Linked DNA regions of Homo sapiens. The protein of the gene in region 1 purifies or fractionates together with the protein of each later gene. This does not show direct contact. Each region holds a gene or a part of one and is shown on either strand. Other genes may lie near its edges. The genes, in order: TXNDC11, EDEM2, TXLNA and RBL2.

What was found.
Region 2: the proteins of TXNDC11 (region 1) and EDEM2 purify together in Homo sapiens (co-immunoprecipitation; 4 studies listed by BioGRID and IntAct, with this or other methods). This does not show direct contact.
Region 3: the proteins of TXNDC11 (region 1) and TXLNA purify together in Homo sapiens (affinity purification with mass spectrometry; 3 studies listed by BioGRID and IntAct, with this or other methods). This does not show direct contact.
Region 4: the proteins of TXNDC11 (region 1) and RBL2 purify together in Homo sapiens (affinity purification with mass spectrometry; 3 studies listed by BioGRID and IntAct, with this or other methods). This does not show direct contact.

Annotation. Positions count from the first base shown.
Region 1 is NC_000016.10:11,732,516-11,739,879, reverse strand, and holds part of TXNDC11 (thioredoxin domain-containing protein 11), read left to right. Parts: intron 1-3,646; coding exon 3,647-3,863; intron 3,864-5,800; coding exon 5,801-5,898; intron 5,899-7,364. UniProt on the Homo sapiens protein: May act as a redox regulator involved in DUOX proteins folding. The interaction with DUOX1 and DUOX2 suggest that it belongs to a multiprotein complex constituting the thyroid H(2)O(2) generating system.
Region 2 is NC_000020.11:35,130,221-35,137,584, forward strand, and holds part of EDEM2 (ER degradation-enhancing alpha-mannosidase-like protein 2 isoform 1 precursor), read right to left. Parts: intron 4,730-7,364; coding exon 4,518-4,729; intron 1,564-4,517; coding exon 1,422-1,563; intron 1-1,421. Other genes in the region: MMP24-AS1-EDEM2 (ER degradation-enhancing alpha-mannosidase-like protein 2), read right to left, coding at 1,422-1,563, 4,518-4,729. UniProt on the Homo sapiens protein: Involved in the endoplasmic reticulum-associated degradation (ERAD) pathway that targets misfolded glycoproteins for degradation in an N-glycan-dependent manner.
Region 3 is NC_000001.11:32,182,573-32,189,936, reverse strand, and holds part of TXLNA (alpha-taxilin), read right to left. Parts: intron 5,413-7,364; coding exon 5,321-5,412; intron 1,984-5,320; coding exon 1,813-1,983; intron 1-1,812. UniProt on the Homo sapiens protein: May be involved in intracellular vesicle traffic and potentially in calcium-dependent exocytosis in neuroendocrine cells.
Region 4 is NC_000016.10:53,458,107-53,465,470, reverse strand, and holds part of RBL2 (retinoblastoma-like protein 2), read right to left. Parts: intron 6,021-7,364; coding exon 5,854-6,020; intron 3,731-5,853; coding exon 3,621-3,730; intron 2,920-3,620; coding exon 2,816-2,919; intron 1,246-2,815; coding exon 1,108-1,245; intron 34-1,107; coding exon 1-33. UniProt on the Homo sapiens protein: Key regulator of entry into cell division. Directly involved in heterochromatin formation by maintaining overall chromatin structure and, in particular, that of constitutive heterochromatin by stabilizing histone methylation.

The DNA.
Region 1 (7,364 bases):
ACAGCTCCAGGCTTGAAATAAATGTCTGCTCTTTTCAATGTCTGTGGCTTGGCTGAATTCAAACCAGCTAATATGGAAAAGGTTGATTTGAGGTTGAGCCACAGTGAATAATCGTGCGTTTCTGGGCATCTAATCTTTACTTACCTGTGTCTCTTCATCCTGCTCACCTTTCTTTTACCTTGATTTAGAGGGAAAAAAAATTGTCTGTGTGTAGATACATATGTATGTATACATGTATTTATTTTGCTTTATTCCATTTTGTAATTTCAAAGCTGCCTCGAATGGTCTTTGCAAGGAAGTGATGTAGGGTGTGAATTTCATAGGAAAATTGGGGTTTCAACAGGCCTTTTTTCTATGTTGCCCCGGCTGGAGTGCAGTGGCTATTCACAGGTGCAATTATGGCATGCTGCAGCCTCAAACTGCTGGGCTCAAGTAATTCTCCTGCCTTAGCCTCCTGAGTATAGTAGCTGGGACTATAGGCACATGCTACTGGCTCAGCAACAACAGGCCTTCTTATTTGCAACCAACTCGAGTTTTTTGTACCCGAGACATACCCCTCATAGCTGCAGGAAATCTTTGCTCTATGTATAGTTTCTCTAAAGCGTGAAGCAGATTGATGAGTTAAATAGAAACTCACCAGTGTTTCTGATGGAGTAGAGGCGAGCGTTTCTTCTCCCTGGCCAATATTTGATTTTTGATTGGCCTTGTACTTTATCTGGCTCATTTAGGAATGCTTCTGAATATGCAGAGCAAAATTACTGAGTTGCTCTTTATCCTTTCGTTGACTGTCAGACCTACATTTTTCCTCAGATTGCATTATTTGATGCTTACATTGCATTTTTTTTTTCTTTTGAGATGGAGTTTTGCTCTTTTTTCCCAGGCTGGAGTGCAATGGCGTGATCTTGGCTCACTGCAAACTCCGCCTCCCGTGTTCAAGCGATTCTCCTGCCTCAGCCTCCCAAGTGGCTGGGATTACAGGTGTGCACCACCATGCCCAGCTAATTTTGTATTTTTAGTAGAAATGGGGTTTCCCGGTGTTGGTCAGGCTGGTCTTAAACTCCTGACCTCATGTGATCCACCCGCCTCTGTCTCCCAAAGTGCTGGGATTACAGGCGTGAGCCACGACTCTTGGCCATGTGCAGTTTGAATGGTAGAAAAGTAATTTCTCCAAAGAGCAGAATTTTGGATCTCTTGAAAACGTGTCTTTTTTTTTTTTTTCCTGTAGTGCCCTCCCCACCTCTTAGGTGGCTATCTTCTTGTCATTCAGGTCTCAGAGCTTAAATTATAGCACCTCCCAAGCCACCACTCCATCAGAGGAGCTACCATGCCCTTCTGTACATCACCTTGTTAAATTTTTCACATAGTGAGCATTTAGTATATTTTTATTGTTTACACATTTGATGTTTTTCCTGTCTTCCTCCCCTAGAAAGTGGTCTCCTCGACAACACGCAGTGCTAGCTGCCGCAGCCTTAGTGCTTGTGCCCAAAGCACAGTCACAGCTGCTCAGTAAAGAATTTTTGAATAATTGTGTAAGTGATTTTTTCAGGTTATGAAGGCATTCTGCATAGACTGAAAGCTCTCTGATTGAAGGTTAAAATATTAGTTTGAGTGAATAAATAGGTGACTTGCTCCGTTGGATACTTCTGCCTGTTCTGGAATTTCATATAAATGCAGTCATAGTGCATGTACTCTTTAGCACTTTTTTCACTCAGCATAATCATTTTGAGACTCATCCAAGTTATAGTACATATGAATAGGTTTTGCTTTTCGTTTTTATTGTGGAGTAACATTTAAGTAAATGGGTAAGAATATACCCCAGTTTATCATTTTACCTCATGAGTCATGCCAGATTTCTTATGCTCACTATTTACATAGTTTTTCTTTTCCCATCCTTATGCCTTTATCCTGTGTCTTTATATTTAAGATATATCTCGTTTAGATAGTGCATAATTGGGTCTTGCTTTATCCTGTCTGGCAGTCTGCTCCTCCTAATTAGGTTGCTTCCTTTTTTTTTTTTTTTTTTTTTTTGAGAGACGTAGTCTCGCTCTGTTGCCGAGGCTGAGTGCAATGGCATGATCTTGGCTCACTGCAACCTACACAATTCTCCTGCCTCAGCCTCCCGAGTAGCTGAGACTACAGGTATGTGCCACCACGCCCGGCTAATTTTTTGTATTTTTTTCAGTAGAGATGGGGTTTCACCATGTTAGCTAGGATGGTCTTGATCTCCTGACCTCGTGGTCTGCCTGCCTCGGCTTCCCACAGTGCTGGAATTACAGGCATGAGCCACCGCGCCCGGCCTCTCCTTTTATATTTAACGTAATTGTTGAGGTAGTTGGGTTTAAGTCTACCTTCGTGCTCCTTGTTTTCCATTTGTACCGTCTGGCTTTTGTTCTTTTCTTGTTCCTTTACTTACTTTCTTTCTTTTTTTTTTTTTTAGATGGAGTTTTGTTCTAGTCACCTAGGCTGGAGTGCAATGGTGCAATCTCGGCTCACTGCAACCTCCGCCTCCCGGGTTCAAGCGATTCTTGTGTCTCAGCTTCCCGAGAAGCTGGGATTACAGGCGCCCATCACCACGCCCAGCTACTTTTTCATTTTCAGTAGAGACAGGGTTTCACCATGTTGGCCAGGCTGGTCTTGAACTCCTGACCTCAGGAGATTTGCCTGCCTCGGCCTCCCAAAGTGCTGGAATTACAGGCTGAGTCACCACGCCTGGTCTCCTTTACTTTCTTTGGGGTTAATCTCATCGCGTTTTAGGTTTCCATGTTTATGTTCTCTATTTATCTCGTTTAGATAGTGCATAATTGGGTCTCATTTGTTTCTTAGCAAAGCTGCCCTAATGGTTTGTGGTATGTGAGTGTAGATGCATGGACAGCTCAGGGTGTTTACTAGGGCCCTTCTACTTGGTGGGATGCAGCCTGGGCCTAGATCTTTAGGTCTTGATGGGGAAAGTTACTTCTGACCACTTGTTTGTTCAGCGTTCTTTTCTTTTTCCTCCTGATCTGTTTCTTGTGGGAAGCTCAAGTGTTCAAAAAGCCCATTTTCCAGTTAAATAGGCTGTTGCTTTGTTACTTATCTTCATTAGTCTTAGGATTATGATATATATCTGGAGGAATGTATATTATTGTTTAATTGTTACTGTTACCTGAATGCCCTGGATAAGTACAAGCCAACTCCAGCTAATAAGCTTAATGTTTTCTCAAAGTTGAGTTGATTGTAAGCATCTCCCGTGGAAATCTTGTTAATGGTAGTTTACATGCTCCCTCACCGTAATTCTGAGCTTGCATGCTGGTGGCTCTAAAGCCCTGGAGATAAGTGGCTTTTGTGGAGAGCCAGGCTGCAGAAAAAGGAGGATGAAGTCTTTGGGATGTGGGGAGCAGGAATATGGATTATTCAGAGACATCCTTCTCTGCTCTCCACTGCCCTTCCAGCCTACACCTAGGGGACAGAATCTCAGAGAATTGTTTCCAACGTATTATTCATGTCTTGCATTTGCTCAGCCAGATGTTGCCTTTCTAGGGCAGTGATTTTGGGACTCCATTTTCTTATTCAAAAGAGGATTTTCCTTTTAAGCTTCATTCTACTTCCACAGAGCTATTTTTAGAAGAAGATAAACTAAGCAATCTTTTCTGTGTTTGCTCTTTTTTAGTCGAGCAAAAGATGTGATAATACCAGCAAAGCCACCTGTCAGCTTTTTCTCCTTGAGGTCTCCAGTCCTTGACCTCTTCCAGGGGCAGCTGGATTATGCAGAGTACGTTCGACGGGATTCAGAGGTGGTACTGCTCTTCTTCTATGCCCCTTGGTGTGGACAGTCCATCGCTGCCAGGGCAGAAATTGAGCAAGCAGCAAGTCGGCTTTCAGATCAGGTAATGCTCACATTCAGCTTAAGAATCAAATGACTGTCAGTCCTATATGTAGGGCAGGATGTCCCCACAGAGACACCTTGCCCAACGGGCAGACTTTGCCAAGGTGAACTCCAGGAGTCGTTTCTAAGTTACAGAGCTTTCTATAAAGCAACAGAAAGGATTTCCAATTGTGGCGATTGTACTCCAAGGCAAGTGTGGGAGCAGATTCTGAATCTCATAACACAAGCCAATGCTTATCCTGGGGTGCCATACTGTTTGGTTTCAGCATTGAAAAAGGTAGAGGGACTGAAAATCCTAGTTCTTGCATATCCATTTGATACTTGCTAGTTAGGTATTTTAGGTAAGAAAATGTATGTATGATATGACTGCATTGTAACAAGGCCGACCTTTTTAATATATGGACCAGAACTATATTCAGCAGATAAGGAATGCCACCTTTGGGCTAGGTAAGAAAGATATATAGGCAAATAAGTCACCTGTTATGGCAGTGGTTTTCAGCCCAGTGGACCCCAGTTGTGCTTTAGAAAATAAGTATTTTATGATGTCCCTTTTTCTTCCTAAAAAGGAATTCATAGATGATAAAGTTTTCCTATACATGTAATTTCAAAATAATCTAATGCACGGATTGTAACATAGAGGTGAGGGGGGAAGAAAGTAATTTGTAACTAAATGATATATATTTTAGTATGTAAGTGCACAGTCAGAACAGGTCCATATACCTTTATGTAGAATCACTGAATGGGATAGTTACAAACGTAGACTGATAAAGGTGATATGTTGGTGACTTACCTGCCACATGGACATTGCTCTTAGTAATTGATTATCCTAAATGGTGAACAGTCTTGGTAAAATCCTGAACTATGCAAAGCCCTTTCTGCTCTCAGTTTACATAGAAGTTGCATTCCTGAAAAATTCAGTGAACACAAAAAGCATGCTTTAGATTCACATGTAAAATGGAGCTAGGTACTGGGCTTTGATAATAACAGGTTTTCCCCAACATCAGTGTTTGGCAGGCGTTTTGAACTCCTCTGGAATGCTATGGACGACTCTTCCGTGTGCAAAGCAGGTTTGAGTGTAGCAGGACATCTACCAACACCCCTGCCCTACGTATGCACTGTAGCTTCCCCCAGTCATTGTAGCAAGCCAAAAGCATCCCACAGATTTCTAAGACTCTCCTGCTCAGAACCACTGATGTGAAGTAACGTGTGTAGGCAGCTGAGTTCCAGAAGTTCATTTGGAACTGTCATTTGGTTTTTCTTAGAAACTGTGGAGCCTTCCAAATTTAGAGAACAAAGTTCACGTTGCCCATGTTGGGCACAAGAGGGATATCTATTGTGTTTTATTAATAAGTGTGAATTAGCTACCTTACTGTCAGCCTAAGCAGTATGTCCTTCTGAGTGATGGCATTAGTATAATAATAATGATATTCTGGTGTGCCAGGCCCCATGCCAATTCTCAACCACTTTGCAAGGCGATGCTGTCAGCCCTGTTTTTCTGAAGCAGGACTGCAGGCATAAGGGGTGAAGCAGTTTGTTTACCATCACGTAGTGGTGGGGGTTGTAGTGCAATCCAGGGACTGCTGCTTTTTTTAAAAAAAAAATTTCAGCTCCTTCCAAATTGAGAGCTTACTATTCCATGTACTCAGTAGGGAAAAAAGTGGGTTTATTTTTGGAAACACACAGAAATCTTTTGAACTGTATTGCATGGTAAGATTGGTAAACACGGTCCAAGTCCTGCCTGGACATCATAGATAAGAGTATGTCTTTCTTTTTTGTTTTAGTGATAAATTATGACCTTTGAAAACTCAAAACAGTTTTTTTCATAGTTTCTGTTTCAGTGAGAGAGGAATCATTCTATTTTTAAATTTCATCTTTTAAATCTTGGTAACTTTTCAGTTGTTATTCATAGTCATTTGAAAACCTTTTTTGGCTCTGCAGGTGTTGTTTGTGGCAATTAACTGTTGGTGGAACCAGGGGAAATGCAGAAAACAGAAACACTTCTTTTATTTTCCTGTAATATATCTGTATCATCGGAGGTAAGAACTTTTTAAATAGCGTCTCTCATTCCAGTTTAGTTTGCCAGTTTATAAATGAATTTTGCATTTTTTCTATATTAAAGTATTAGATATTCACTATAGAAAATTCAGATAATACAGATAAGCAAAAATTAAAAAAGAAAGATCTGGATAATCCACCCCCCTTTTTAAAGCTAAACATGGGATCAGGCAGTAATACTATTTCCTAAACTGCTTTTCTCACTTTTTTGAGCATCTTTTCATGTCATTACACATTTTACAGCATTGTTTTTAAAAGTACGAATTACTCCAATGCATTTCAGATATCGTAAGAGTGTTTTGTAAAAATACACAAAATTTCTTATCGTTTCATCTGGAGGCATAGCAGAGTCCAGAGTGTATCTTACCATCTATTCTATTGGGAAGAAAATTACTACAAGTACACAGTCCCATGTCCACAATTCTTTTTTTTTTTTGAGACGGAGTCTCACTCTGTTGCCCAGGCTGGAGTGCAGTGGCGCGATCTCCGCTCACTGCAAGCTCGGCCTCCCGGATTCACGCCATTCTCCTGCCTCAGCCTCCCAAGTAGTTGGGACTACAGGCACCCACCTCCCTGCCCAGCTAATTTTTTTTGTATTTTTAGTAGAGACAGGGTTTTACCGCCCATGTCCACAATTCTAAAGTCACAAAGAGGGCTGAAAAACGGAAAGAGTTTTATTTTATCTTATTTTATTTTATTTTATTTTGAGACAGAGTTTAGCTTTTGTTGCCCAGGCTGGAGTGCAGTGGTGCAATCTCGGCTCACTGCAGCCTCCGCCTCAGGGTTCAAGCCGTTCTCCTGCCTCAGCCTCCCGAGTAGCTGGGATTACAGGTGCCTGCCACCACGCCCGGCTAATTTTTGTATTCTTAGTAGAGACGGGGTTTTACCATGTTGCCAGGCTGGTCTCGACCTAGGCTGTACTAGAGTACAGCCCAGACCCTGCTGTGAATGATAAGTAATGTCTAAAAATCTGACTCAAAGAGTTTTGGAGATAGGAGATAGGACTTTGGACTTTGTTCAGGGTGATTGGCTTGAAGTTTGTTGAAAGTAAAATGGGTAAAGGAGATTTGATCAGTAGAGAGCTTTCCTTTTTCCTTCTAAAGTTCTTGGGCCATAATCAATGGGGATTTATAGCAAACATGCACAAACAGTGATTTGTGGGTTCTCTGTCACATTCCATCCCATTTCCGTGTCTGTAACATAAACTGTTGTCTGGCACATAGTATTGACTCCCAGGAACTATTAGGTAGTATTTGGGCAAAAACACACTTTTCTACCCCATCTCTACCCCCACATTTTCCTCTGGATATTAGATGTTTGTATTTTAATATTTGTAGTAAGAAGCCAGTTTTTGCTTAGGGACCACTAAGACCATTTTCAGATTTCTTCCCCACTTTTTGGCCAGTAACTTGGAGGTTCTGCCTTTACATGGAAGGTTCAAGTACAG
Region 2 (7,364 bases), on another chromosome or scaffold:
TCATGCCCAGCAAATTTTTTTTTATTTTTTGTAGAGACGAGGTCTCACCATGTTGCCCAGGCTGATCTTGAACTTCTGGGGTCAAGCAATTCTCTCGCCTCAGCTTCCCAAAGCACTGGGATTAAAGGCATGAGCCACTGTGCCTAGCCGAAAAAGTTTAATTTATAAATTAGGCATGGGAAGAGATTAACAACAATAACTAATAATAAAGCAGAACAAGTATAACAATATATGTTATAGAAGTTATGTGAATTTGTCTTTTTGGTAAGAGACAGGAAAAAAAGAAATTATGTAAATTTAGTGCCTCAAAATATCTTTGTTTTTTTAGAGAGGGGGTCTTACTATATTGCCCAGGCTGGTCTCAAACTCCTGGCCTCAAACAATCCTCACTTCCAAAAAACTGGGACTACAGGCGTGAGCCACTGCACCCAGCCTCAAAATATCGTATCTGACTGTACTCACCTATTTTCAGACTGCAGTTGACCATGGATAACTGAAACCATGGAAATCAAAACTGTGGATAACGGGGGACTACTGTAGCTATAATAATAATAGTAATTAGGTGCTCAACAATTCCTCAAGATTGCTAGTGTCTAAGGGCCTGGCGGGTAAGATGTATTTATTCAACAGGTATTAATCTATTACCTACCACATGTAAAGCACTGTGGGGAACATAAGATGAGTAAGGCATGGATTCTGCATTCAATTTGTAGAGCTGTAACTGTTGATGAGAGCTAACTGCAAGAAAGATGCTGAAGGTCCCAAATTCTGTAGAAGGATCAAGCTACTTCCTGGGCAAGGCGACATTTAAGTTAGGCTTTGAAGGGTGAAAAGAATTTGGACATAGGAAGACAGGAAAAAAGACATTCTAGGCAAAGAAGATGCCATGTGCAATGGCCAGGAGATAAGAAATCCAGGGCTACATACACAGAATGCAGCACGCTTCAGTTGGCTTTTGCAAGAAGGCATCAAGTGCTGTAGTGGGCATGAAGTGGGCAGTGTAAGTCCATAGTGACTCTGAATTCAGAACTGATTCTGCAGGCACTCAGGCCAGGCGTGGTGGCTCACACCTGTGATCCCAACACTTTGGGAGGCCAAGGCGGGCAGATCACCTGAGGTCCGGAGTTTGAGACCAGCCTGGCCAACATGGTGAAACCCCGTTTCTACTAAAAATACAAAAATTAGCTGGATGTGATGGTGTGCGCCTGTAGTCCACACCATCACATGCCCAGCTACTCAGGAGGCTGAGGCATGAGAATCACTTGAACCTGGGAGGCAGAGGTTGCAGTGAGCCTAGATTGTGCCACTGCACTCCAGCCTGGGAGATGGAGCAAGACTCTGTCTCAAAAAAAAGTTTTTAAACAAATCACACATCAGCAAGAAAAATGAGGGGAAAAGCTCCCTTACTCTGCCATTTTTACCTAGGAACATGGCCATGAGCTTCTTATCCTGAAGCAGGATGGCTCCTTTCACCAAGTACTCAAAGTAGGAGTCCACGCCAGCCCCGATGCCTGCGTCCTGGGCCACCCACTTGCCAGTGAGCACATCAATGTGGTTGCCGACCTGAGAGAGAGAAAGACACACGGTCCCAACGGGAAGGCCGATGGCCAAAGAAGGATCTACTCACCCCCAACCCTGACTGCCCAGGGAGATGCAGGGCAGGTGCCCCAGTGCTTCTTGGGAAACATGCAGACCCTGAGAGGGAAGGGCAATGCTGGATCATGGCCAGCCTTCCTGTACATCTGCATAGTAGAGATGCATCTCATGCACATTTATGAGGACTTAATTATACACATTGAGCAAAAAATGAAAAAGAAAAATGATTTGGAGTGTTTATGTCCTGCCTAGAGTGAGTGTGAGATGGGAGATGAGAATTTGCTGTTGCCGCAATCTGTCTGATTTCTCAGCACCCAGCATGTGATTCCACTATCTGAAGACACAGACGTGCTTTACGTATTTCCATAAATTAACTCAATAAGAACATCCACCAAGAAGCTGACAGAGTGGTTCTAAGGAGAGAAACCGAATAGCTGGAGACAGGGGCAAAAGGGGACTTCACCAATGTCACTGAGTACCCTTTTTTGTATCCTTTGACTTTTTTTTTTTTAATTGTTCAGTCTCTGTAGAGACTGTGAAAAATTGGCAATGCCGGCCAGGCGCGGTGGCTCATGCCTATAATCCCAGCACGTTGGGAGGCTGAGGGGGGCAAAATCACTGGAGGTCAGAAGTCCGAGACCAACTTGGCCAACATGGTAAAACCCTGTCTCTAATAAAAACACAAAAATTAGCCAGGCATGGTGGTGTGTGCCTATAATCCCAGCTACTCAGGAGGCAGAGGCATGAGAATCACTTGAACCCAAGAGGGGGAGGTTGCAGTGAGCCGAGATCGTGCCACTGCACTCCAGCCTGGGCGACAGGGGGAGACTCTGTCTCAAAAAAATAAACAAAGATACGTATTTTTCTATTTTATTGTATTTATTTTATTTTTTGTATTTTTAGTAGAGACATGGTTTCTCCCTGTTGGTCAGGCTGGTCTCGAACTCCCGACCTCAGGTGATACGCCTGCCTTGGCCTCCCAAAGTGCTGGGATTACAGGCGTGAGCCACTGCGCCCAGCCAAATATATGTATTTTTCATATGGCTTAGACCCTCATGGAAGCTGGTAACTTCATCTGGTACTCAAAGAAATAGCTAACTGTTCCGCGTTGGTTTGTGTCCCCCCAGGAGCACAACCTCATTCTGCCTGAAAGTAGTTGATTTGGAAGGTAAGTCCTTGTAAACACCAGTAGAGGAGGGGGAAGTGAGGCAGGGCAAGGGAGGCGGCATTTAAGGGGTATGCCATCAGGCAGGTTTCCACCATGGGAACTGGAGTTCAATCTTGCTGGGGAGCTTAGGAATTCAGTGTAGAGCTCCAGCTTCGGAGTGATCCCACCCAAGGGGCAGGGAACTGGAATGTTTATCCACCAACTCCCATCAGTATCAGTTACCGGCTTGAGAGCTACTCATGGGTAGCATTAAATCCTGGTACCCTCAGCCAAAGGCAAGCAGAGTGGCTCCAGGCACCAGAGGAGACCCACAGGCAAAGAGGCGCAGGTGATGGCAGTTGGAAGACTGGCCAGTGTGCATGGAAATGTTAAGAGTTGAGAGGATATGGGCATGGCACCAACAGAGTCTACTACGGTCCCACTGCTGGAGCAAAACCTGCCTGAGATGGACTAAGGGATTTACTACAGGTCTCCAGCGGGGCACCTTTTTTTTTTTTTTGAGATGGAGTTTCGCTCTTGTTGCCCAGGCTGGAATGCAATGGCGCGATCTCGGCTCATCCCAACCTCCACCTCCCAGGTTCAGGCAATTCTCCTGCCTCAGCCTCCCAAGTAGCTGGGATTACAGGCATGCACCACCACGCCCGGCTAATTTTGTATTTTTTAGTAGAGATGGGGTTTCTCCATGTTGGTCAGGCTGGTCTCGAACTCCCAATCTCAGGTGATCCGCCCGCCTCAGTCTCCCAAAGTGCTGGAATTACAGGCGTGAGCCACCGCACCCAGCCTTAGGGGGGCACCTTCTTAAGGGATTTTCGGGGAGTCCTCACACAAGCTTTACTTTTCAAGCTGGATTAGCACCAGACTGCATAAAATGTGCCTAGACCTAAATGCAGTCTTCCTAAGTCAGAGTGACTCAGCAAAGTTGGTATTAATATATTAACGTTACTGCTGAAGTAACTGAGGACCAGAGAGGTTGAGTGACTTGCTCAGGGTCACACAGTTTCGATGTAGCAAGGCCAGGGCTTGAATCCAGTTCTGACTAAATCCAGTGTTATGTCCTGGATGGCTTTGGCTCAATTACTGTTAATCTTATTGATTATCCCATTTAGAAGCTGAAACTGACCTTAGAGATCATCTGGTCCAAAGTGTGTTCAATTTCCATGGGTTAATAGTACTGGAAGATAAAGGGAAGCTCTGGTGTTAAATAAGTTTGGGAAATGTTAAATTAAACAAAGTTGAATAGATTTCTTTACTAGAGGATTTTTATTCTGCTCATGTGCATTCTGACTCTCCAAAAAAGGGGGGGATATTATATCTAATATTCCCCTAACTTAATTGGCCAAGACTCATTTTTTCATGCAACTGCCACTCAGTATCTCTCAGAACCGGTGTCCTAAGAAACACAGCAAATACAGATAGACGCTAAAAATGAAGGCCGGACGAGCTGATGATCTGAAGCCGTCAAGTGAGTCAGGGGCATGAAACATACGACCCTCTTCCTAGAAATCAGAGAATCTCAACTGGTCAAAGCTGAATGCAGCCCCTGCTGCCTGCCAGAAACGTGCTTTCCCACTCTCCTCCCCACTCCAAGCCAAACTTGAATTGGAGGCTTGGTCTATTTTTGGTGTCCTGAGCCCAAATCCTGGACCACTCCCAAGGTCACCCTAAGTTTTCCTTGGCTTGACTGCAACTTATTGCTCAGAGCCCTGGGCCTCGTAAGCAGGGACTCAAACAGGAAGGGCAGCAGCGAACCTACCAGCCCGATATCTGACCGGCTCTCCCAGAGGCGCATCAAAGCCACTCTGGCCACATCTTCGAACACCGGGTCACCAGTGAGGCTGCTCAGGGTGGCAAATTCAACAATGAAGGTCCCAATCCCTGCCGTACAGGTGACAGGGGTCTCTCCTGGGTTCACGCCATGAAGTAAGTTCACTGTTCCATATGGCATGCCAGTGGGGGTCTGAAAGGCTGAACAATCGACAAATTATGATCCCGGACAGGAGCAGGGGGATAGGGATAGTTCTGATACACGCCCAAAGCCTGGGACCTTAGCCAGCACTTCCCTCTTTCTCCTGGGTATCCTGCTAGAGTCTGAGCCAGAGAAAGATAAATGTCATAACTGGAGGGCCCTGAGCAGCCACCCAGCCCAGATGCTGTCAAACACTGCTCTGCATAACCTTGGGTTCCTGCTCATCATGAGGGGGCAGGGAGCAGGCTGTGCTCCACACACACTCGCTTTAGCTAGAGAGCTTTACCTATTTTTATTTATTTTACACTACGCCTTCAAAGCCCAGGCAGGTAACTTATTGTGATGCAGGCAGGGTTTAAGCCACAGAAAGTGGTGGGGCTTGTGGCACAATGACAAGAGTAAGCCCCGTTCAAAGCCATTCATAGACTTTTGGCTCACGCCTATAATCCCAGCACTCTGGGTGGCCAAGGCAGGCAGATCACTTGAGGCCAGGAGTTCGAGACCAGCCTGGCCAACATGGTGAAACCCTATTTCTACTAAAAATACAAAAATTAGGCAAGCGTGGTGGTGCACGCCTGTAATTCTGGCTATCTGGGAGACTGAGGCACGAGAATCGTTTGAACCCAAGAGGCGTGGGCTGCAGTGAGCTGAGATTGCACCACTGCACTCCAGCCTGGGTGACAGAGCGAGACCCTGTCTCAAAATAATAATAATAATAAACAAAGCCATTCATAGACTTTAAATAAAGATCTCTGCTTTAAATAAAGAGTATAGGGGCTAAATTATTTTTAAAGGGAAGCAAAATAGGATATAAACCACTAAACCACGGATATAGTATGACCCTCGATTTATAGGTAGGGAAAACCATGCCTGTAAAGAAGTAATTCAGCCACAGGTCACACAGAGAGAGTCAAACAGAGCTGGGATGGGAACGCCTCCCCTGTGCCCACCCCAGCCCCAGTCCAGTTCTCTGCCCGCCCCACCCAAGTGGCACCCAAGTGCCTTCTGGTTCAAGACGAGAACTGGACAACCAGCCAGAGGCAGAGATTTCCTCTCTGGGCCTAAAGGTCAAACAACTCCAGAGCAGCCTATGCGTCACCAAACTGTGAACAAAGGTGTCGACACTTCCAAGAACCACAGGGTCTAGCAACTGTGTCTGCCACAGACAAGAAACTTGCAATCTGGCAGGCACCAGCGGGAGAGCAAGTCACAACCAGGAAGGGCTCTAAGCAATATTTCAGAAAAAGTCAGGCTGTAATAAAAAGAAGAGGAGTGACAAAATCCTGTTTCTTGACCTTTTTTTATAAAATGACCAATGACCAAAAATAATTAAATTATAAAGGAGGAGCAGCTAGGCAGAGTTTCCAGAGTTTCCTCCAGGGATGAATCACACAGGACACAATGTCTGCAAGGAGACGCTCAAGCCATGAGCCATGAGCCATGAGTGAGACCTGAACCTAGCTCACCCGCTATCCTCAGCTCTCCCCCAAAGGAGAGGCAAGTGCTATGTGAGAAGGATAAAGAGGCCGGGTGTGGTGGCTCACGCCTGTAATCCCAACACTTTGGGAGTCCAAGGCAGATGGATCACTTGATCCCGGGAGTTCAAGACCAGCCTGGGCAACATGGTGAAACCCCATCTCTACAAAAAAAAATTTAGCCATGCATGGTGGCATCTGCCTGTAATCCCAGCTACTCAGGAGGCTGAGGTGGGAGAATCAACTGAGCCCAGAAGTTCGAGAGGCTGCAGTGAGCCATGATCACGCCACTGCACTCCAGCCTGGGCGACAGAGCAAGACCCTGTCTGAAAAAAAAAAAAAAAAAAAAATTAAGAAAGAAAAGGGATAAATAAGTGAGATGGCCAAGAGGTGATGGAAAGCACAGTGTGACGTGTCTGGGTGTGAACAGTCCTCAGAGCCTCCACCACACCCTGAAGGGAACACAGTGTACAGTTGATGCTACTGAGCCTGGTGTTACTGCCCCACTAGACAAAAACATGGAGGCTTGACCTGCAGCCCTGGACACAGCTTAGCCACAAAACAAATCCCTCTCGTTTTAAAAGTGTTGGACGTTCTCTAAGCAGTTTCTCCTTCCTGACCTCATTTTAGCCTCTCCAAAACCCGATGTGGTAGGGAAGTAGAAATTATGATTCTCATTTGATAGATGGGGAAACCAAACTGTGGAGAGAGGCCAGACACAGTGGCTCATGCCTGTAATCCCAGCACTTTGGGAGGCCGAGGCAGCCAGATCACTTGAGGTCAAGAGTTTGAGACCAGCCTGATCAACGTGGCGAAACTTCATCTCTACTAAAAAATACAAAAATTAGCTGGGCATGGTGGCAGGCGCCTGTAATCCCAGCTACTCAAGAGGCTGAAGCAAAAGAATTGCTTGAACCCAGGAGGCGGTGGTTACAGTGACTTGAGATTGTGCCACTGCACTCCAGCCTGGGCGACAGAACAAGACTCCATCACAAACAAACAAACAACAAACTATGAAGAGAAAGAGTGGCTTGGTCACGATGTTGGCTGGCAGAGCTGAGTCTAGAATCCAGGGCTGCTAATGCTCACACCAACACCCTTCCCTGGGCCCCTGTTACTCCAGCAGTGTGTGGAATAACTGTAGTACCTGGAAGGGGAC
Region 3 (7,364 bases), on another chromosome or scaffold:
AGACTCCAGGATGTTGTGCAATGCGGGTTCCAATGGGCCCCTCTGTATATCAGGTGACATCAAGTGAGATTCTCCCCCTAGAAAAATGCAGGCACATGGCAGGCGCGGTGGCTCACGCCTGTAATCCCAGCACTTTGGGAGGCTGAGGTGGGCGGATCACGAGGTCAGGAGTTTGAGACCAGCCTGGCCAATATGGTGAAACCCCGTTTCTACTAAAATACAAAAATTAGCCGGCGTGATGGTGTGCACCTGTGGTCCCAGCTGCTTGGGAGGCTGAGGCAGAGGAGTCATTTGAACCTGGGAGGCGGAGGTTGTGGTGAGCTATGATCGCGCCACTGCACTCCAGCCTGGGCGATGGGCCACAGAGCAAGACTCCGTCCCCAAAAAAAAAAAAAGGAAGAAAAAATGCAGGCACACATGCACACATGTAAGTGCTAAGTGCCATTCTGAAGCAAGTCGGATCTCCTAAGGCCTATTCTTCCAGATTTCAGATTAATGTGCATTTGTCCCCTCTGTACCCCCAGAGACCAAGCTGTTAAAATTTAGTAACACCCAGGGTTTGCAAAGTTGTGCAGAATTAGGCACTCAACACTTTTGATGGGGAAGGCACACTGCCCCCTCACTGGAAGGCAATCCAGCAAAATCTATTAAAATGAAAAATCTGCATATACTGTGACCTAGCCATTTCAATTCCATGACTTATCCTACAGATAAGTTCTATATAACTGACCAGTGATAAATATAACAAGAATTTTCACTATAGTTCTATATGTAATAATGAAAAATTGTAAACAACCCCCAAAATGCTTTAACTAGGGCACTGATATAATATATCCATATAATGAGAAGATAGCCCTACACATACTGATAGGGAAAAATGTTATGTAAAGTGAAAAAAAGGCACAGGATATGAAATGGTACATGTATAATAATTTCATTCTAAAAACTACATGTAAGATTTTACATATAAAAAAGAAAGTTAAAAGGCTGTATTTAAACTTGGTGTAACCACAGACTGACCTCACCATAGAAGCAGCAGAACATGGGAAGGACCCAGGTTCCTGACTGACCAACGTCTGGGACAAGAGCTGCTTGTCAGAGCCAGGCCTCCGCTTACCAGGGGACTGTCATTTCATTGAGAAATACTAACGCCAGTGCATTATGGATTCTCTTAGTACTTTATCCTTCACCTTATCTAATACATGTCAAATGATTACAAGCAGTACTCTCTTAACGTAAGGCATTATTGAGAAAGTGTATTTCTATGCCACAAGCCTGCACTACTTTTTTTTTTTTTTGGACACTGAGTCTCACTCTGTTGCCCAGGCTGTAATGCAGTGATGCAATCTCGGCTCACTGCAACCTCAGCCTCCCAGGTGCAAGCAATTCTCATGCCTGAGCCACCTGAGTAGCTGGGATTATAGGCATTTGCCAGCACACTCGGCTAATTTTTGTATTTTTAGTAGAATGGGGTTTCACTGCGTTGACCAGGTTGGTCTCAAACTCCTGGCCTCAAGTGATCCATCCACCTCAGCCTCCCAAAGTGTTGGGATTACAGGTGTGAGCCACCACACCCAGCCTTGCTTTTTTACACTGATTTCATGTTGAAATTGTAATGTTTTGGATATTGGGTTAAGTATATTACTAAAATTAATTTCTGTTTTTTAGTGGCCAGAAGATTTTTAATCACTTATGTGTGCCACTGCGCCTGGCCCTAGCCTGCACTACTTTTTAAGAGGAAAGCCCATGAAAGAAACATTAAGTGGAAGTCAAGGAAACCAGAGTCACCTGTTCCAGGGGGCCCAGGCCTACCTTGAGGGAGCGGTTGTGCCGCTGCAGCTCACGGCATAGGCTCTCAAGCTTGCTGCGGGCCAGGACGGCCTTGCTGTGCTCACCGCGCAGGTGGTCCTTCTCTTGCACCAGCTGGCTCTGCTTTTTCTGTAGGAGCTTCATCTGCTTCTGTGAATTCCGGTGCTCCTCCAGCTGGGGACAGGGATAGGGAGGGCAGGTGAGCATCTTGTGGGGCCTTCCTGGTGGGGGGATCACTATGCAGGTCTAGGGTCTCCTGAGCTGCCCTGACCCTTACCCTCTCAGGCCAGGAGCACTCTCATGGGCTGATGCTGTGCCGGTGCTTACACGCTCCTCCCATGAACTCACAATAACCCCAAAGGCTCCACCGTAGGGACAGAGAAATGGTAACTCACTAGGGCAAGCAGGGGCCACACAGCCAGCAGATGCCAATTCCTATTCCAGCTCTGACTCTGGGCCACTAGAGCCACTTCAAGCTGTTGCATTTCCCCAACTTGCTGGACACTCATGCCCGAGGATGAGACCACCTGCTACCGTACCTTGTGCCTATTAACAGACAGACCCCCATCGCTCCCTCGCATTCCTTCAAAACGTTAGCGCTGCGTTCATCAGCGCTCTCCCCAACACAATTACTTTTCTCATTTGTGGCCACTTCAGTATCAACAGATAATCCTTCTAACTCCCTGGCCTCACAGTCCATCACCTCTTCCACAAACCCACTCCTTTCCCCAGCTCAGTTCCCCTCCCATGACCCTATCCAGGCCTGTACAACAGAAATATAATGCAAACCACATAAGTAATTAAAAATATTCTACTGGCCGCACTAAAAAAGTAAAAAACAGGTGAAATTAATTTTAGTAATATATGTATTTAACCTAATATCCAAAACATTACAATTTCAACACGGAATCAATGTAAAAAAGTGAGGCCGGGAGTGGTGGCTCATGCCTGTAATCCCAGCACTTTGGGAGGCTGAGGCAGGCAGATCACTTGAGGTCAGGAGTTCAAGACCAGCCTGGCCAACATGGTGAAACCGTTTCTACTAAAAAAAAAATACAAAAAAGTAGCCAGTTTGGTGGCATGCGCCTGTAATCTCAGTTACTCAGGAGGCTGTGAGGCAGGAGAATCGTTTGAACCTGGAAGCAGGACATCACGCCACTGCACTCCAGCCTGGGTGACTGAGACACTCTCTCACAAAAAGATGTTTTATATTCTTTGTTTTTGCTTAAGTCTTCAAAAGCTGATGTGTATCTTACATTTATAGCATGTTCAAATTCAAACTGGCCACATGTCAATTAGCTAGAGACGAATTTATCTTGGACAGCGCAGATCTAGACTTTGTCACTACCAGAGAGCACACCCACTATCTCAATTTCCAGCATCCCAGTCCAGGACTACCATCACCTATCTTTTTAGCTCATTCCAATCAGTATCTGTGATCCTCAGAAAGTCTCTTACCCTATAGGACCTCCAATCCATTGACTCAACCATCCTTCCACTCTCCTTTAAAATAACTACATTACCTGGCTTGGATTTCTTACACCCTCAACTCTCTTGGCCCTTCCCCAGTAGTACTGCAACCCTAGTAAAGCACCTTCCTGCTTTACACCAGTACTATAACAACCCTACTTGAAGAGTCTCACTTTAAATTCATGGCCACCAATTTCAGGAAGACCAGCAATCCCAATACAATGCATATGCTATTCACACTCCTCTCCTTCCAGACAACTATTTCATCGTTCTCATCAAATCTCAAAACACAGAAGAAACTAGAGAATCAGGGGCACAAGCTGCACATCTACCAGTCCACCTGCCCCGTCCTCTCCTCCAGTCACACAGACCTAGCCATGTGGTTACCACAGCCAAGCCCCCTTCTTGGGCAGGCCTCAGCTCCCCTCCTCTACTCACAACACCACTCTAGCAACTCATTTCCTCTCTTGCATCAGCAATTTTCCCCTGGCTGGATCACTCCAAAAGGGTGCTTATCTTCCTTATACCTTTTATTTAATCCTTACAAGAATGTCATTAGGCAGGTATGACATTCCCCATTTTAAAGATGAGTAAAGTTCCTTACAGGAAAATATTAATAAATGTGTGTGGAATGAATTAATTTTAAAATAAATACTTAGAGGCCAGGCACAGTGGCTCACACCTGTAATCCCAGCACTTTGGGAGGCTGAGACGGGCGGATCACGAGGCCAAGAGATCAAGACCATCCTGGCCAACATACTGAAACTCTGTCTCTACTAAAACATACAAAATTTAGCCAGGCATGGTGACATGCACCTGTAATCCCAGCTACTCGGGAGGCTGAGGCAGGAGACTCGCTTGAACCTGGGAGGTGGAGGTTGCAATGAGCCGAGATCGCGCCACTGCACTCCAGCCTGGTGACAGAGCGAGACTCTGACTCTGAATAAATAAATAAATAGGCCAGGCGTGGTGGCTCAAGCCTGTAATCCCAGCACTTTGGGAGGCCGAGGCGGGCGGATCACGAGGTCAAGAGATCGAGACCATCCTGGCTAACACGGTGAAACCCCGTCTCTACTAAAAAAAAAAAAAAAAAAAAAAATAGCCTAGCATGGTGGCGGGCGCCTGTAGACCCAGCTACTCGGGAGGCTGAGGCAGGAGAATGGCATGAACCCAGAAGGCGGAGCTTGCAGCGAGCCGAGATCGTGCCACTGCACCCCAGCCTGGGCGACAGAGCAAGACCCCGTCTCAAAAAATAAATAAATAAATAAATACATACATACATACATACATACATACATACACAGGCTGTGACCATCAATGGATAAATCTGTTAGTTCAAATTCTGACAAGGGACCTGATGATGGAAGAATCTGGCTGCCCCACCCCCAACCCACTGAACAATGTTACAACAAAGTGGGAAGAGCATGCTTTGCATTTATTGTGATGGAACATGAAGTACTTATGAAGAATTCTTGTCAAAAAGTTGAAGCTGAATTGGATCAAGCTTTAGAGCTAACTTCTACTTCACTTACATGTACCAGGAGGTAAAGAAGTAAAATGATACCACAGAGATGACAAAGCTAGAAGGGGGCATCCTACAAGACAGCTAGTCTAGTTTCTGTTAAAAGTCAATGTCATGGGGAATATGAGGAGGCAGTGACAAGAAGACTGCTCTGGAGTAAAAGGAAAAAGTATCAAGTGACTAGTGTTAGTTTTATTAACTGTGATAATGGCTCTATGCATCTGTATTTGAGGAAGAAGCATCAAGATCACAAGGTGTCTTGGACTCAGGCCAGGAACAAGGGCTCTACCACCTTGGAATCATTCTTTGAGAAATTTCTTTCAAGGAATATGCAGTTTCTCCTCTTGCTGCACAGCCCTGAAGAGGCTGGCTGGAAGTGATTCCCCATTTAACAGATAGTTCAGAGAAAAGCTGAACAGGAATTAAGCCACCTACTTGACTCTGCACCCCCAACCTTACACCAGGTGGCATGCTGATTTTCCCAACGCAGGGAAGGTGCCCGCGGAGGGGGGAACTGACCAGTTCAGCATACTTCTTGCACAGAGCAGCCAGCTTCTCCTCTGGGGTACTCAGAGTATTCAATGTCTGCATCAGCAACGTGATCTCCTTCCCTGAAAAGCACAGGAGCAAAGACATGCACCCTCTTCTCCAGGTGTCCCCTCCAGGCCTGGGCTCACACTCATGAGTGCTGAAGACAGCCCTCCCCATCATACTTTATATTTTGCTTGTTGATTAGCTGCCTTCCTTGCCATAAGGACCAACTCAATCCTGCCCTCACTATAGCCCCAGTACTGTCCATAGTACCATCACAGAGGATATGCTCAACAAATGCTTATCAAATGAACGACTGTACCCTAGTGAAATCTCCTTAGTAGGCACCATTGGCAGGAGAAAAAAACTGCCTGCTCTACCAATAGAAGAAAGGTGTCCCACTTATGAATTCAGGGCTACTGTTTCATACTGTTTCAATGCAAGGAAGGCCCACCCTCCTGATAGAGGTAGGATCCAAAAAGGAATAGGTATCTTAGCCTCCTTGAGAAATACTAAACTCTTGTCAACAGAGTAGCCAAACAGTGAACTTTAAAATGAAGATACTTTCGGCCAGGCAAGGTGGCTCATGCCTGTAATCCCAGCACTTTGGGAGGCCGAGGCAGGCGGATCACGAGGTCAAGAGATCGAGACCATCCTAACATGGTGAAACCCCATCTCTACTAAAGACATACACAAAAAAATTAGCTTGGTGTGGTGGCACGCGCCTGTAGTCCCAGTTACTCCGGAGGCTGAGGTAGGAGAATCGCTTGAACCCAGGAGGCGGAGGTTGCAGTGAGCCCAGATCGCGCCACTGCACTCCAGCTTGGTGACAGAGCGAGACTCTGTCTAAAAAAATTAATTAATTAAAAAAAAAAGGCAGGGTACAGTGGCTTACGCCTGTAATCCCAGCACTTTGGGAGGCTGAGGCGGGCGGATCACGAGGTCAGGAGATCAAAACCATCCTGGCTAACACAGTGAAACCCCGTCTCTACTAAAAAAAATACAAAAAAATTAGCCGGGCATGGTAGCAGGAGCCTGTAGTCCCAGCTACTCGGGAGGCTGAGGCAGGAGAATGGCGTGAACCCAGGAGGTGGAGCTTGCAGTGAGCCGAGATCGCGCCACTGCACTCCAACCTAGGGACAGAGCGAGGCTCCATCTCAAAAAAAAAAAAAAAAAAAAAAGGCAGGGTACGGTGGCCCACGCCTGTAATCCCAGCACTTTGGGAGGCCCAGGTGGGCGGATCATGAGGTCAGGAGATCGAGACTATCCTGGCTAACACAGTGAAACCCTGTCACTACTAAAAAAATACAAAAATTAGCCGGGCATGGTGGCAGGCGCCTGTAGTCCCAGCTACTCGGGAGGCTGAGGCAGGAGAATGGTGTGAACCCGGGAGGCGGAGCTTGCAGGGAGCTGAGATCGCGCCAGTGCACTCCAGCTTGGGTGACAGAGCAAGACTCCATCTCAGTTGGGGGTGGGGGGTGAAGAAGATGATACTTTCCATGTATGTGACGTTAAGATTTTTTCCTTTTTCTTTTTTTGAGATGGAGTCTCACCCTGTCACCCAGGCTGGAGTGCAATGGCATGATCTCAGCTCACTGAAAACTCTGCCTCACGGGTTCAAGTGATTCTCCTGCCTCAGCCTCCCGAGTATCTGGGATTATAGGCACGTGCCACCACGCCCGGCTGATTTTTTGTATCTTTAGTAGAACTGGGGTTTCACCATGTTGGCCAGGCTGGTCTCGAACTCCTGACCTCATAATCTGCCTGCCTTGGCCTCCCAAAGTGCTGGAGTTACAGGTGTGAGCCACTCTGCCTAGTCGTCCCTAAGATTTTTTAAAGTTCCTCTTTAAAGTAAGAGGATACATAAGGGGAAAAGGGAATAGGAATAAAACATGGATATAATGACACTCGACTTAGATTCTAGATTCTTTTTTTTTTTTTTTGAGACAGAGTTTCACTCTTGTCACCCAGGCTGGATGTAGTGGCACAATCTCAGTTCACTGCAACCTCTGCCTCCCGGGTTCAAGCCATT
Region 4 (7,364 bases), about 42 Mb from region 1:
GCCATCTTCTGCTCTAATGAATACTTCTATCACCTGAAATAAAAAATGTCTTGGTTCACTGAATAATTATTAAATATTTTTAAATATTTAGACAAGAAATTAGTCAAAATTACAAGTTGAAGTATTATTTTGAAACAGCCGCTCTTCCTTTTACTGTCTTTGTAAATAATTATAGTTCAAACTATGAATTATATAAAATGGTTTACATTGTGATGTATTTCAAAATTTTTTAATGAAAATACATGTTTTGTACATTGAGGTTGAAAAACATTACTCTTAAAATTTCATATAAAAATCTCTAAACATTTAATCTATGCCACTATAAAAATTAGTTTTGACTATCTTATGAGAGTTAAGATAAACTCATATGCTAAGTCAGTATCAAGAAATAGCTACCAGCCTGTAATCCCAGCACTCTGGGGGGCCGTGGCGGGCAGATCACGAGGTCAGGAGATCGAGACCATCCTGGCTAACACGGTGAAACCCCGTCTCTACTAAAAATACAAAAAATTAGCCGGGTGTGGTGGCGGCCGCCTGTAGTCCCAGCTACTCGGCAGGCTGAGGCAGGAGAATGGCGTGAACCCAGGAGGTGGAGCTTGCTGTGAGCTGAGATGGCGCCACTGCACTCCAGCCTGGGCGACAGAGCAAGACTCCATCTCAAAAAAAAAAAAGAACTAGCTACCAAATCAATGCTTTAACTCTATGCCTCTCTGTAACACATGAAAGAGAACTTTTTATTTTTTTTCTGACATTTTCAATGGTATTTAATTTTCATAAAATAAAAAAAGGCTGCTATACAAGATTAGCTAGTGACATGTGTGCTACTTTTTTTAAGCCTTCTCAGCTCATAAAAATCACAGTATTCTAAAAACTTTTATTAGATAGAGAGGAATCAAAGCTTTTACCCAAAATAGATCTTTCATACAATATTAAAAGAATTTACATAGGTCTTAAGATTCTATTTCTTTTCTACTCCACAAATAGAGATTAACTATGTAAATAAAAACAGAATAAATGTTCTTAGATGTTAACTTGAACTAAATGACTAACAACAGGAAGTTGGTCTCATCTACAATATCCCCATTAGTATCATATTTTTAAAAATACCTTATAAAAATGATAAAGAGGCACATCAAATATTTCAGTAATAAATGGAAAATTCCCAGGAGGCTTATAAGAAAAAGTGACGACCTCAAGGCAGCAGGCCAAGAGAGATCTGTGGAACGCATCTTGTTCCAGAATACCCTATAAAATAAAGTTATTAGCATTAGAAACATTTACTTAGTCTAAAAAGTCATTTCATACCCAGTGAACTTAAGTGAAAATACCAAAGAAAGTCTCATTTTCTGAGTGAGTGCAAAGTGTGTCCTTATTTTCTTACAAAACCTTTCTTAATTATATAAATAAAGCCCATTTTTTAGTAGAGGAAATATATAAAAGGAATGTATGAGAATTTTAAAACCTTACCTATTATAAAATGTATCTTAAAAGAGATTACATCTCTAACCAAAATACACACACACACTGATGCTTAGAAGAACAATGACAGGGAAAGATGTTTCAAAACAGTATTTACAGTAAGTGCTATAAAAAACTGAAAGGGGGACCGGGCGCAGTGGCTCACGCCTGTAATCCCAGCACTTTGGGAGGCCAAGGTGGGCAGATCACCTGACGTCAGGAGTTTGAGACCAGCCTGACCAACATGGTGAAACCCCATCTCTACTAAAAATAGAAAATTAGCCAGGTGTGGTGGCACACACCTGTAGTCCCAGCTACTCAGAGGCTGAGGCAGGAGAAGCAATTGAACCCAGGAGGTAGAGGTTGCAGTAAGCCGACGTTGCACCACTGCACTCCAGCCTGAGCAACAAGAGCGAAACTCTGGCTCAAAAAAAAAAAAAAAAAAAAAAAAGGAAAAAAAAATATTGAAAGGGGCCAGGCAGGTGGCTCATACCTGTAATTCCAGCACTTTGGAAGGCCGAAGCAGGCAGATCACCTGAGGTCCAGAGTTTGAGACCAGCCCAGGCAACACTGTTCAAGAATCACTTGAATCTGGGAGGCAGAGGTTGCAGTGAGCCGAGATTGCACCACTGCACTCTAGCCTGGGCAAGAGAGTGAGACTCTGTCTCAACAACAAACCCAAAAAAACAGAAAGGCAGGCAGGCAGGTGACTGGCTAGATGACCATGTACCAAAAGTGAATATGTTTATCATAGGATGACATTAATCATAGATGATTTTTATTTTGTTCTTTTTGCTTATAATTTTCCAACATTGTCAATAATTATTATTTTTTAATTAAAAGCTACTGAAGCACCAAAGGCACAGGCAACAGGCCAGGTGCGGTGGCTCACGCCTGTAATCCTAGCACTTTGGGAGGCCAAGGCATGCGGACCACCTGACGTCTGGAGTTCAAGACCAGCCTGGCCAACATGGCAAAACCCCATCTCTACGAAAAATACAAAAATGAGCTGGGCATGGTGGCACATGCCTATAATCCCAGCTATTTGGGAGACTGAGGCAGGAGAATTGCTTGAACCCAGGAGGCGGAGGTTGCATTGAGCCGAGATCGTGCCACTACACTCCAGCCTTGGCGACAGCGCAAGACTCCATCTCAAATAGGTAAATACATACATACATACATACATAAAACAAAAGCACAGGCAACTAGTGAAAAAATATATTGGATTTCATCAAAATTAAAAACTTTTGTGTATGAAAGGAGACTATATATAAAGTAAAAAAAACAACCCACAGAATAGGGCAGGAAGGAAATTATGTTTCATTGCGCTGATCAATACATTGGTTATTTTACTCACAGATAAATCCATGTCTCCTAGTCTTTTTTGTTCCTGCTCAATAACAGATTCTAATACTTTATAGTAAAGCATCTCCGCAAAACGAAAATGTTTGCTGGCAATTTCTGTAGAAATAATAAAAAAAAAAACCCCACAAAAATGGCACACAAAGAAAATAAAGGCCCATTCCTCCTCCTTTACTCACAAAATAAAATTCAAAACCAACCCAATACTTTAGATATGCACACTTCTTATGATTGGTGTTTTAATTATCCCTAAGATACCTTAATTTTCTTCATGGTAACAGTCACATTTTTCTAAAATTATTAAATGAAATTTGCACATAAGGAACTGTAATATCATTTAAGACTAACACCCTTTTTTTTCCTCTATGTTTGAACAAAACAGACCAATGCTAAGAGGTATGTAATTGGCTTACTAGTCCACACCTACTTAGTTCCAATTCCTGACAGCAAACAATTCCTAGGCCAGGTTTGGGCCCATAACAGTGATATCTCCTGTCCTTATTCTCAATATGTTGAAGAATCACTACACTTCTATTTAATTTCCAGTTTACAAAAAAAACCTAAAGATTTGCAGATAAAAAAGCATCAGAAGTCCAATATAATAAAGATACCATTCTAAAATTTCTATCTTACTGAGAAGGGCTCAGAAATCAGTTGGTTGACCAGAAAAATTGGACAGCCATATCCTAGCCTTCAGTCTAAAGTCATAAATCTTTTCCTCATCTTTCTTAGTTAGTAAGAAATGACTCCATTTAGTTAAACTTCAAACATAAAAGCAGAATAACAATGTTAAACCTTACCTTTAGCACAATTACTGAAATCCTCGTCTGGCTGGAAATGCTGAGAATATATTTCAAACATTTCTTTCAGTCTGTTAGCAATAGCCTGGGTTGGATCTCTGGAACATGTCCTAAAAAAGGTAATGAGAAATAACATAATTTAAAGGTCTTGTCAAGTCACAAGGGGATAAAATGTTTCTATAATTTCACTAACATGTAAATATAAAACACTCTGAACAGAAACTATACACTTCCCAAATTAATCCAAGAGATCCCATACTTCCTTTTCAAAGGTGGTGGTATTACCAGTTTGAATGAAAAAAAAAAAAACTTTTCTTGTGGGAGCTACACCTTTTATTTTATATATATATATTTTTTTTGAGACAGAGTCTCGCTCTTTCACCCAGGATGGAATGCAGTGATGCAGTCTTGGCTCACTGCAACCTCCACCTCCCAGGTTCAAGTGATTCTCCTGCCTCAGCCTCCAAGTAGCTGGAACTGCAGGCACCTGCCACCACGCCCAGCTAATTTTTGTATTTTCAGTAGAGATGGGGTTTCACCATGTTGGCCAGGCTGGTCTCGAACTCCTGGCCTCAAGTGATCCACTTGCCTCAGGCTCCCAAAGTGTTAGGATTACAGGAATGAGCCACTTCGCCCGGCCGGGGATACACCTTTCAGTGCAGGAAGTTTAGCAACCTTGGCCTGGGCCCATTCGATATCTATGACTGTCCCCCACCTGTCCTACACATCCCCAGTCACTGATTATCCCAAACTTGCCCTTAACTATTTCCCTAGAGGACAGTAAAACTCCCATTAAGAACACCTGGAAGAAAATAGAATGAAGGGGTGTAAAACCCATACTACAGACTCACATAAACTGTTCCTGGCATTCTACATTTTTTTCCCGCCAACGAGGTTTACTTCAGTCTTTCTATTATTAGAAAGCAATATATGTTCAATCCAGAAGCATTATACAAATTATCACCATGTAAGCTTTTTGTAACAACTGTTTTTATCTTGATCACAAATATATATATAATTATATACATATTCTTTGTGAAAATGAAGCAAGTTTAAAAAATTATAAAGAGAATAAAAATCAATTACAGTCCTGCTAGAGATAACTACTGAATACATATACAAGCAGAATTTTTCTGGGAACACACACACACATACCTTTCAACAAAAATAGCACCCTTTATTTTACCTAGTATTTACTGGTAATATTTATTTAACCCCACTAATGGTACCTAAGATTTAAAATGCTGTTATGCCTAGTTAGAAACTGTAAAGCGATCTGGAAGACACAGAGATTAAGATGGCTTCTGAAATGTATTTACGAAATGCTTCTAAATTCAAGGCAAACAAGGTGCATCTGAAAAACATGACTCAGGAAGAGGCCACAGAGATATAACTTGTTGAGTATAAATCACAATCAAGTTTATGAATAAAGCAGACTTCACTAAAATGTAAAGGAAAAGTAGTTGGCATTTAAGAAGCCTGGCTATGAGTGGGAAATTACTTATGTGTACATATAGGGTCTTCTTGATATACCATCATCAGAAATAAAATGGGGTCCTTTTGGGTCTACGTTATCATATCATAAGGTTTTAGGACTGAGAGGGACCTTGGAGGTAACTTTTCAAATCAACTTGCCAAAGGTTATGCATAAGATGATGAGATTCAGCCTACTGGGCTTTTAATTAAAACTCAATGATATTCCTACCAGTCTCAGGGAGATCAAAGGAACTAAATGCAGTGAACTTCCTTTCCAGGATAAGGATGTTTTATAGAGCTTACAAAAGTTACAGTGGTTTTTGTCCTGCTTTATGAACATGTGGAACTCTATTAATCTTTTCAAATCTGAGTCACCCTTCAGAACTTACCTCAGGTTCAACCCTCTTCATAAAGTCCTTTGACAATTCCCATCATCACTGAGCTTCCCCCCGCCCCCACCTCACCACTCCCTGAAATCTTGAAAGAACAGTTGGCAATAAGACACTTTTGTGTTTTACTCTACACTGTCTGGTGTTATTAGTTACTGTGTCTTGTATTATATTAAAGAAATCTAAGGAAAGAAGATCTTCCACTTATACATCTTATTGCTAGGTCCTCTATAGACTCACAACAGGACTGAGTATACAATTGATAAAAAATTATTCATGGGTGAATTAAGGCATTAATAATGAAAGAATAGGAAATTGGAAAATGGTCAATAACCAAATCTTAGAAAGCAGACAGGGCTCAAACTAACCTGAGAATCTGTTCCAGTTTCTCACTTGGTGCATTCCTGAGGCCTGTCAGCATGGTGTGAAGACGACTCAAGCTATGCGTAGCTGTAGAAACTGGAGTCACACAAGGGCTATTCTCCTTAATGTACCTAACACCAGTTAGTGGTGTGGAGATTCTAAGTGCTTTGGACTAAAGAAAAAAAAAATTACACAGAATTAATAAACATTTTTTAAAGAACATTATTTTAGGCCAGAAAGACTTTAATTCACTTCACAAATGGGACTTCAAGCCAGTAAGACTTTATCTTTACAATATCAATAAATTTTAGTGACTCAAATGTCACCATTCTTGGAATTTAAACATAACAGCATTAAGAGCCGCCAATATCCATGTGAAGACGAAGGTGTGAAAGAATAATTTGTATTTTAGCTAACTAAAAGTTTGTCTCTTAAAAGTTAAAACTCTAAAATAAGGTACAGCTCCCTACATTCCCTCTTGTAAAACTTATGCTCGGAGGCAAAGATAAGCATTCTGCTCACCTGAAAAATTAAGATTATTCTCAGCTCTGAGAAACAGAATTTCACAATTCCCATCTACTGCTATTTTTGCAGACACTCAAAGATAAAAGAAAATTGTGATTAAATTTGGTTCCAAAAAAAATCCATGATTTAACAAAAGCCTACTGATATGGTTTGGCTATGTCTGCATCGAAGCCTCAACTTGAATTGTATTTCCCAGAATTCCCATGTGCTGTGTGAGGCACCCAGTGGGAGGTAATTGAATTATGGAGGCCAGTCTTTCCCGTTCTATTCTTGTGATAGTGAATACGTCTCGCGAGATCTGACGGCCTTATCAGGGGTTTCCACTTTTGCTTCTTCCTCATTTTTCTCTTGCCACCGCCACCTAAGAAGTGCCTTTCGCCTCACACCATGATTCTGAGGACTCCCCAGTCATGTGGAACTGTAAGTCCAATTAAACCTCTTTTTGTTCCCAGTTTTGGGCATGTCTTTATCAGCAGCGTTAAAATGAATTAATACACCCACCATCCAAATATTCAAATTTGCTTCAGAGACAGATAATAAGTTGAACATTCCCTAAAAAGGCAACTTGATGCAGAACAGCCTTCATTGGTCTTCCTGCCCCTCCTCTACCTTTGGTTACCAGAATCTATCACAGGTTCTCCCCCTAAGGTAGACAGGTCTTCAGAGAAATAAGTTAAAGTCAACATTCTTGACAATAAATATGGAGAAGATGTGACTTGGTGTCAAAGGAGCCAGTAAAACATCTTTCTGATTTTTCAAATAAACTCTGAAAGGTTAAGATAGCTTAACAATGTCTTTTAATATTCAAGATAAAATTTCCCTGTGTATTAAATGTACTTATTCTAATTTTTTAAAAAACCTAGCAAAACTTTCACCTGGCAACAGAGCCAACTATTCAAGTTTCATAAGATATAGAAAAGCACAGAAATTTACTGTATACAGAAACAAACCTACATGTTTTCTCTATGTCTTAAAGTGTAATACAACTAAG